Homo sapiens: one gene and its partner. The protein of the gene in region 1 interacts with the protein of each later gene in a pairwise test. Each region holds a gene or a part of one and is shown on either strand. Other genes may lie near its edges.

Evidence for each region. The genes of interacting proteins can lie anywhere in the genome.
Region 2: the proteins of PPP1CB (region 1) and PHACTR3 interact in binary tests that used the Homo sapiens proteins (3 or more experiments, as listed by UniProt).

The regions. Positions count from the first base shown.
Region 1 is NC_000002.12:28,785,435-28,790,461, forward strand, and holds part of PPP1CB (serine/threonine-protein phosphatase PP1-beta catalytic subunit), read left to right. Parts: intron 1-3,223; coding exon 3,224-3,375; intron 3,376-5,027. UniProt on the Homo sapiens protein: Protein phosphatase that associates with over 200 regulatory proteins to form highly specific holoenzymes which dephosphorylate hundreds of biological targets.
Region 2 is NC_000020.11:59,838,529-59,842,039, forward strand, and holds part of PHACTR3 (phosphatase and actin regulator 3), read left to right. Parts: intron 1-1,840; coding exon 1,841-1,902; intron 1,903-2,866; coding exon 2,867-3,007; intron 3,008-3,511.

The sequences.
Region 1 (5,027 bases):
TTTTATCACAGTTTTTGATTGTAATTATAGAATACATTTGACTAAACCTAACAAACTGGTATTTAAATAGTATTTTATTTAAAATGCTGTTTTTAGGCCTGGTGCACTAGTTCATGCTTGTAATTCCAACAGTTTGGGAGGCCAAGGCAGGAAGATCACTTGAGGTGAGGAGTCGAGACCAGCCTGGGCAACATAACACCCATCTCTACAGAGAAAAAAAAAATTTTTTTTTTTAATTAGCCACATGTCGCAGCACCGCGGCTACTCAGGAGGCTGAGGCAGGAGGATCACTTCAGCCTGGGAAGTTGAGGCTGCGGTGACCTGTGATTGTGCTCCTGCATTCTAGCCTGGGTGACACAGTGAGACCCTCTCTTTCAAAAAACACCCAAAGTGCTATTTTTAAAATAAGGTATAATATAAATATGTATTACTGGTCATTCTTCAGAATATCTGTTTATAGTTCAGATGTAAACTGATCTAGTGTGATATGCTAGGCTTCTGTTTTTAGCATGTTTTATTTATTTTAGCGTATTTTAATGAGAAGTTTTCAAGATGCTGAAAACAGTTATTTTGATCTTTGATAGTGTCTGCAACATTCAGAAATTTAATTTATAAGTTAATACATTATTTGAAGCAGCCTAGTTGATTGTGATGCTAGCTCATTAAACAATAAATCTTGACTCTGAAATTCTTTTTGAGACAGAATTTCACTCTTGTCGCCCAGGCTGGAGTGCAATGGCCTGATCTCGGCTCACTGCAACCTCCACCTCCCAGGTTCAAGCAGTTCTCTTGCTTCAGCCTCCCAAGTAGCTAGAATAACAGGTTCCTGCCACTGTGCCCAGCTAATTTTTGTATGTTTAATAGAGACAGGGTTTCACCATGTTGGCCAGGCTGGTCTTGAACTCCTGACCTCTGGTGATCCGCCCACCTCGGCCTCCCAAAGTGCTGGGATTACAGGCGTGAGCCACCATACCTGGCCTGAAATTCTTATCTAGACCCTGTTAAGGTTAAAGAATTCCAGATTGTTGTTGCTACCATTATTTGATTTTTTTAATGCATCCAGAGTGTCATGTTTCCTAAACCTCAAACTCTATTCTAATTTTATACAGTTTTATTGTCTCACTGAAATTATAGATTCTTGAGATCGAGACCATCCTGGCTAACACGGTGAAACCCCATCTCTACTAAAAATTCGCTGGGTGTGGCAGTGGGCGCCTGTAGTCCCAGCTACTCGGGAGGCTGAGGCAGGAGAATGGCATGAACCCGGGAGGTGGAGCTTGCAGTGAGCCGAGATCGTGCCACTGCACTCCAGCCTGGGTAACAGAGCGAGACTCCGTCTCAAAAAAAAAAAAAAAAAAAAAGAAATTATAGATTCTTAATACCTTAGCTTTCTACTGGAAAGAGGCTGGAAAGTATGAAAGCATTATTAAGCACTGGGTGGGTGTATATTTTCGAAGAGTCAGCTTCAACCAGAAAGGGCTTAAGAATTGAGACTGACTATTCCAGTGGATTTTGTGTGCTAGTGAATTTCTTAAAACAACATACAGGGAGCTTGGGATATATCAATGATAGAGATTGAATACATTGCCACTAATTCTACAAATGGTTTTATAATGCCTCTATCAAGATATGATGTACTGTAACTGAAAATGAAGATGCCCTTTCCTCCTAAACCATACTATGATGTTTATGGATTATTTAAAATTCTTAAAACTGACTTAACTCTTTAAAAATTATCTTCTTGGCTGGGCGCGGTGGCTCACACTTGTAATCCCAGCACTCTGGGAGGCCGAAGCGGGCGGATCACGAGGTTAGGAGATCGAGACCATCCTGGCTAACACAGTGAAACCCCATCTCTACTAAAAATACAAAAAATTAGCCGGGCGTGGTAGCGGGCACCTGTAGTCCCAGCTACTCGGGAGGCTGAGGCAGGAGAATGGCGTGAACCCGGGAGGCAGAGTTTGCAGTGAGCAGAGATTGCACCACTGCATCCCAGCCTGGGCAACAGAGCGAGACTCCGTCTCAAAAAAATATATATGTATCTTCTCTTAGCCACTGCAATTCTTAGAAAATCACCATCACCATCTCAACATCCACCCTTCTTTTAATATCACTACAGTTGGACTTTTACCCACTCCGTTACCCTCAATCACCAAGAAACTTGCATTGAGGTCTGATGATTTAATTGTAAGTGGCACATTTTTGGTCTTCGTCCTACTGCCCTTGTTCATGGCACATTTCCTACTTTAGGACGATTGTTTCCCCTTTCGGGATACGTTTACTATACTAAGCCCTTTGTCTTGATCATTCCTTCTCAATACCTAATGTTCATTCTCCCTCATCTACCTGCCTATTAAATGTTTGAATTCCTCAGAATTCATTTGCTGGTCTTCTCACTTTGTATTCCTAAGGTGGTCTGAGTCCCTCTTAAGATTTCCACTACCATTAATATGATGACAATACTCAAGTAAATATTTTTAACCCTGACCTCTTTTCCAGGGCTCCAAACATTACCAAAGTCAAGGATCTGATCTGATTTTGTTCTTCCACATTTAAAAAAAAATCCTCAGGGTCTCAGTAGAAAATGTTTTTTTTTCGCTCAAGTGATCTGTAGATCAAATACAATTCCAGTGAAATCACAATTGAGTTTTTTATGGAATTAGGCAATTGTTTTTAATGTTTATGTGGAAGAACAAAAGATCAAAAAGTAACCAAGACAATCCTGAAAAAAAAATGGAGGATACTAGCCCTACCAAATATAAAGACTTATTAAAAAGCTCTAGTCTGTTATTGGCTCAGGGATAAGTAAAATAGACTAACAGAATAGACTGTGGTGCTCAGAAACAGTGGAACCGTAAGGAAAGGATGAACTGTTGAGGAAATACCACTGGGTTGTTTGGTTATTCATATGGAGAAACTACCCAAAAGATGAACAGCCTTTTCCATGTATTGTTGTGCTGTAAGTGCCATGCACATATTTCCTATATGTGGAAAGGGTTGGAAAGTACTACCTTAAGAGGCCATGGAAGATTATATTTGTATGGTTTGTATGGTTGCTTTAACAAAAGTATAAGTTACATAGGCTGGAATACTTAGGCAAGTGATGGTCATTGTTTAGTAAAAGGTAAGAGGGCAAGAAAGGAACTGAAATTTGATGTAGATGTGCTATATTCTATAAATCTGTAAATTTTGTTCTTAATTGCTGTATTTCTGTCCTTTAAAGGTTTGCTCTGTGATTTGCTATGGTCTGATCCAGATAAGGATGTGCAAGGCTGGGGAGAAAATGATCGTGGTGTTTCCTTTACTTTTGGAGCTGATGTAGTCAGTAAATTTCTGAATCGTCATGATTTAGATTTGATTTGTCGAGCTCATCAGGTATGAAATATAAAACTCTTAAGCTTTTTCTTTTTTCTTTCTTTTTTTTGGGGGCAGACGGAGGGGCAGACAGATTCTTGTTCTGTCACCCAGGCTGGAGTGCAATGGCGCAATCTCTGCTCACTGCAACCTGTGCCTCCCGGGTTCAGGCAGTTCTTGTGCCTCAGCCTCCCAAGTAGCTGGGACGATAGCCGTGTGCCACCACACCTGGACTCTTAAACATTTATTATTTGTTAACTTCACATAAGCCCTCTCATTTTGTTTTGAGGAAACATATCCAAGAAAGCTAAATGAGTTGTACAAGGAAAGCAGTAGGAGAGGTGGCAGAGCCAGTTCCTGGATCTCACACTTAACAATCTAGTGATTTGTTAACCTTTTATCACCCTAAAAGAGGAAATGTTTAGAAATATTTTGGGGCTGGGCATGGTGGCTCACATCTATAATCCCAGCACTTTGGCAAGCTGAGATGGGTGGATTGCTTAAGTACAGGAGTTTGAGACCAGCCTGGGCAACAAAATGAGATTCCATCTCTACAAAAAAAATCAAAAATTTAGCTGGGTGTGGTGGTGCGTGCCTGTGGTCCCAGCTACGTGGGAGGCTGAGGTGGGAGGATCGCTTGAGCCTAGGAGATCAAGGCTGCAGTGAGCCATGTTTATGTCACTGCTCTCCAGCCCTTGTGAAAGAGCTAGACCCAGTCTCAAAAAAAAGAATGTATTTTTGTAGTATACAGCAAACCTAACAAAATTTTCAGTGCTTCTTTGAAGCTTTGTAGATATGATTTAGATTTTTTTTTTTTTTTTTTTTTTTGAGATGGAGTCTCACTCTGTCACCCAGGCTGGAGTGCAGTGGCACAATCTCTGCTCACTGTAACCTCCGCCTCCCAGGCTCAAGCGATTCTTCTGCCTCAGCCTCCGGAGCAGCTGGGATTACAGGCACGCACCACCACGCCTGGCTCATTTTTGTATTTTTAGTAGAGACAGGGTTTCACCATGTTGGCCAGGCTGCCCTTGAACTCCTGAGCTCAAGTGATCTGCGCCTCAGCCTCCCAAAGTGCTGAGATGACAGGCGTGAGCGTGAACCACTGTGCCCAGCCTCATTTTTATATAATCTTTGTGCATAATGGCGATTTTGATAAGAGCAAACCACACTTTAAAAAAGTATTTTTGAGACCATTGAAGAATTTGATTGTGGCTCAGTGCAGTGGCTCATGTCTGTAATTCCAGCACTTTGGGAGGCTGAGGCAGGCAGATCCTTTGAGCCCCAGGAGCTGGAGACCAGGCTGGGCAACATGACAAAACTCTGTCTCCACAGAAGATACAAAACAGCCAGATGTGGTGGTGTGCACCTGTAGTCCCAGCTTGCTTGGGAGGCTGTGGCAGGAAAGTCGCTTGAGCTCAGGAGGCAGAGGTTGCAGTGAGTGTAGATCGTACCATTTCACTCCTGCCTGTGCAATGGGTGTGAAACTCAGTCTCAAAAAAAGAGAACATTTGATTGTAGACTTGGTAATAGGTATGAATTATTTAATCTTTTAATTTTTTGTTTTTGTTTGAGGCCGAGTCTCACTCTGTCACCTAGGCTGGAGTGCAGTGGCATGATCTCGGCTCACTGCAACTTCCGCCTCCCAGGTTCAAGTGATTCTCCTGCCTCAGCCT
Region 2 (3,511 bases), on another chromosome or scaffold:
AGGGACTATATTCAGTACTTGGTATATATTCCCTCATTTAATCATTGCAACATATTTGTGAGGTTTGCACTTTTTAATAAATGAATATTGGGAAAAGGATAGCACTAGAGTTCAACCCCAGGTCTGCCTAACTCCATTGCCCATCTTCTTAACTACTGCATCAGAAGCAGTAATACATTTCTGGATATTCATGGAAGTCTCAGGTATAACTGTCCAAGCTGCTGGAGCTATTTCCAGAAAATATGAGTATAGCAGTCCTGATTATGGGTCCCTTGCTTTGTATAATGCAGAGGGTGTTCTGGGTCTGGAAATAAGAAATCCATAAACATATCACTAAGGGGAGCTCAGAAGGGGAGGTCTGTGGGCTTAGGCTAACAGGGAGGACTTCTTGGAGGAGGTCTCCAACAGAGCGCCTGGCACAAAGCAGCACTCTGACAGGAACTTTCAAAGATCAGTTCTCCAAAGACCCTGCTGGTGACCTTCGTAGTAATTATGGCATTTTTCAGGATTAAAAAAAAAAAAAAGATCTGACTTTGTTTCAATCTTTTCACATGGAAGCTGCACTTGGGAGCTGCCCATGGCCTATTTTAAAGAAATCTGAAACATTTTACGTCACGTAAATCCCTCATGGCTTGCCTTGTCTGGACACTTTCACAATGTCTCTCTAATTGTATCAGCTTTCTGATGATACCTTAAAAGTATGGTTTCTTCTGGTTTCTCACTTGTATAAAGAATTAAGCAGAAAGAGGATTTCATTACCTTTTCTAAAACACCCTAATCCAAGATGACTCACTTAAAAAAAATTACTGGAAAGCACAATATATTAAACTCTCATATAACCAATCCCACAAATGTATAAATATTTGAAACGCATCTTTTACATAAAGGCAGATAATGTGAAATTGTGTTAATTGCAAGTGGCAGGATTTCCCTTACCAAAACCTACCAGTGTTTCTAGGAGTGCTGATTGTTGAAATCTCTTTCCTAGGAATGGAGCTATGTTCAGGTCAGGGACATAAGGCTTTATTTAGCAACAGAGAACACCAGAAATAGGACAGCCATTATCTTGTATCCCAGGGGGAAGCTTACGTTTTATACTATATCTCAGCACTTTCGTCTATTTTTGGCTTCCAAGGGTAGGTGCGAGCACAGCTTGAATGTTAATAGTCACAACTTACCAAGCAAAGCTAATTTTGCTGAGGGACTTGGGCTCCTTTAAAAGGCACTGTCATATAACAGTGTTCACGCTTCAGCAATGGAGAGTCAGCGAGGTTCATAGATGTGTTAAGATTTGAAATATAGTCTGAACATATAAATTCCAGGCAAGCATATGCTGCCCAGGAGCTGAAGAAGGTGTTCCATGTTTTATGTTGGTTAAAAAGTCTGTACGCTTATTAAGGAAAAAAATTAGTGGCAGTGCTATTTATATTGAAATGTACATATACATTTATTTACTTAGTCTACTACAGCTTTTTTTATGTGGCATCTAAGTGCTAGATGTAAATATAAAGATATTTGGGGAGAAAGACAGACACAGAGGTGTCTACTTCCTTAAACAAACAGCAGCCATATCTGTGGTTGTTTCTAATGCACAGAAGGGCTGAGGAGACCAGGTTGGGATGACAGCAAAGCTTTGCTTAGTACAAGTATTTCTGTGTAATGAGACCATGATCTCCTGAGCAGTGACTGACAAAGTGGGAAGAAAACACCATGAGTGATGTGGAATTAACTTCAGCTCCCAGAAATATGGATATCTTGGGAACACTTCCCTGCTGAAGAGAAGAACGTTTCAACCTGTTTCTCTTTGTTATTTTTTTTTTCCTATTTTAATCTTTCACAGAAAGGAATGATCAGACAGAGCAGGAAGAAAGAAGAGAAATCAAGCAAAGATTGACAAGAAAGGTAGTATAAGCATTTTATTGCCTGAATAATAAAAGGTGGTCTAGAGAACAGCTGCTTCGGTAGCAGGTGGGATGGGTAATGCTAGGTATCACTCTGTGATCATGAATAATGTTCTCCTGGACATCATGGCATCAGTTAAATCAGGATATTTGCTCAGCAACAATGAATTAACTCCCTCTGACGTTCCCTATGGACGAAGTCCTTCCCTAGCACGGTAGCACTTGGAGAGGTGCACAATGCACATGACATTTTTTACTTATGTTCAGGTGGAAGCCAGAAGTTGATTGGCATTTTCTTAATTTACAGTGTCTAGGAAAAGCATACCTGGGTATCAGTGTTTTAGTCACATTTTACACTCATCGCTTTTGTTCACCTCCAATATGTCTAGAAGTTCCTCAGTTGCAGAAAGCTTTATTAGACTCAAAGGTTTGTTCTCTGTGACTCAAACAGTTAACATTTACTATGGCCAATACAGGTAGCAACTCTATAAATCTTAATCTACTTTTAAAGCCTTGACCATTTCTAAATTCAAGTGTTCTGGATTCCCCTTCTTCGTTGTGCTGCTCCATAATAATTCTCTTGAAATTAACAGAATATCCTTCCTAAGCTGGACATATAATAACTTTATTAGTACTTTTAAAAAGCTTATCTAATTGTATCTGAAGCCAGTGATGCCATAAAATCTAAGTTAATTCACTAACCATTCCTTGAGCTGGTGCTATGTACTACTGGGGGTGTGACTCCTTCTGATAAAATATGTTGGAGGAAGGGGGATTGTGATTTAAGAGTACAGTATATAATTTCAGCCCTTCACATTAGAGATTGCTTGTATTTGGGTTATATTTTCCAGTTTCAGGTTTTTTTTGTTTTGTTTTGTTTTTTAAGAGAAGTGCTGTTTGTTCAGAGTACTTCAAAAAAGCTAGTTTGGCATGTGATACTTAACTATGATGATCTTTAATTTTAGCTTAATCAGAGACCCACTGTTGATGAATTAAGAGACAGAAAAATTCTGATACGATTCAGTGATTACGTGGAAGTAGCAAAAGCGCAGGACTATGACAGGAGGGCAGACAAACCCTGGACGAGACTGTCAGCAGCAGATAAGGTACCTAACTGCCTGTGCTGGTGGGGGGTGTTGGATGATATAATAAAGGCAAAATATGTCATGCCAGGGAGTTTATTCATAGACAATGGGAGCCCTCAACTATTTAAGGGTATACTGCAGTAAATATTGGTTTCTCAAAGATAATTCAGGGTCAGATTGAGAAGTGGTTCTCAGCTAGGTGACAGTTTTGCCCCGAGGGACATTTGGCAATGTCTAGAGACATTTTTGATTGTCACAACTCGGGATGCTACTGGCATCTCCTGGTAGAGGCCAGGGACACTGCTCAGCATCTCACAATGCACATAACAGCCCCCACAACAAAGGATTATCTAGTACCAAATGTCAAGACTGTGGAAATTGAGAAACCTTGGTATAAGGGATAAATCAAAGGTGGGCAAGGCTGCCATAAGAGATCAACTGACAAGTTTAAACAAAAAGAGCTACAGTGGGGACAAAGAGGCATTCAAGAAAGCCTCTACAGTATAGAAAAGGTTCTAGATTCTC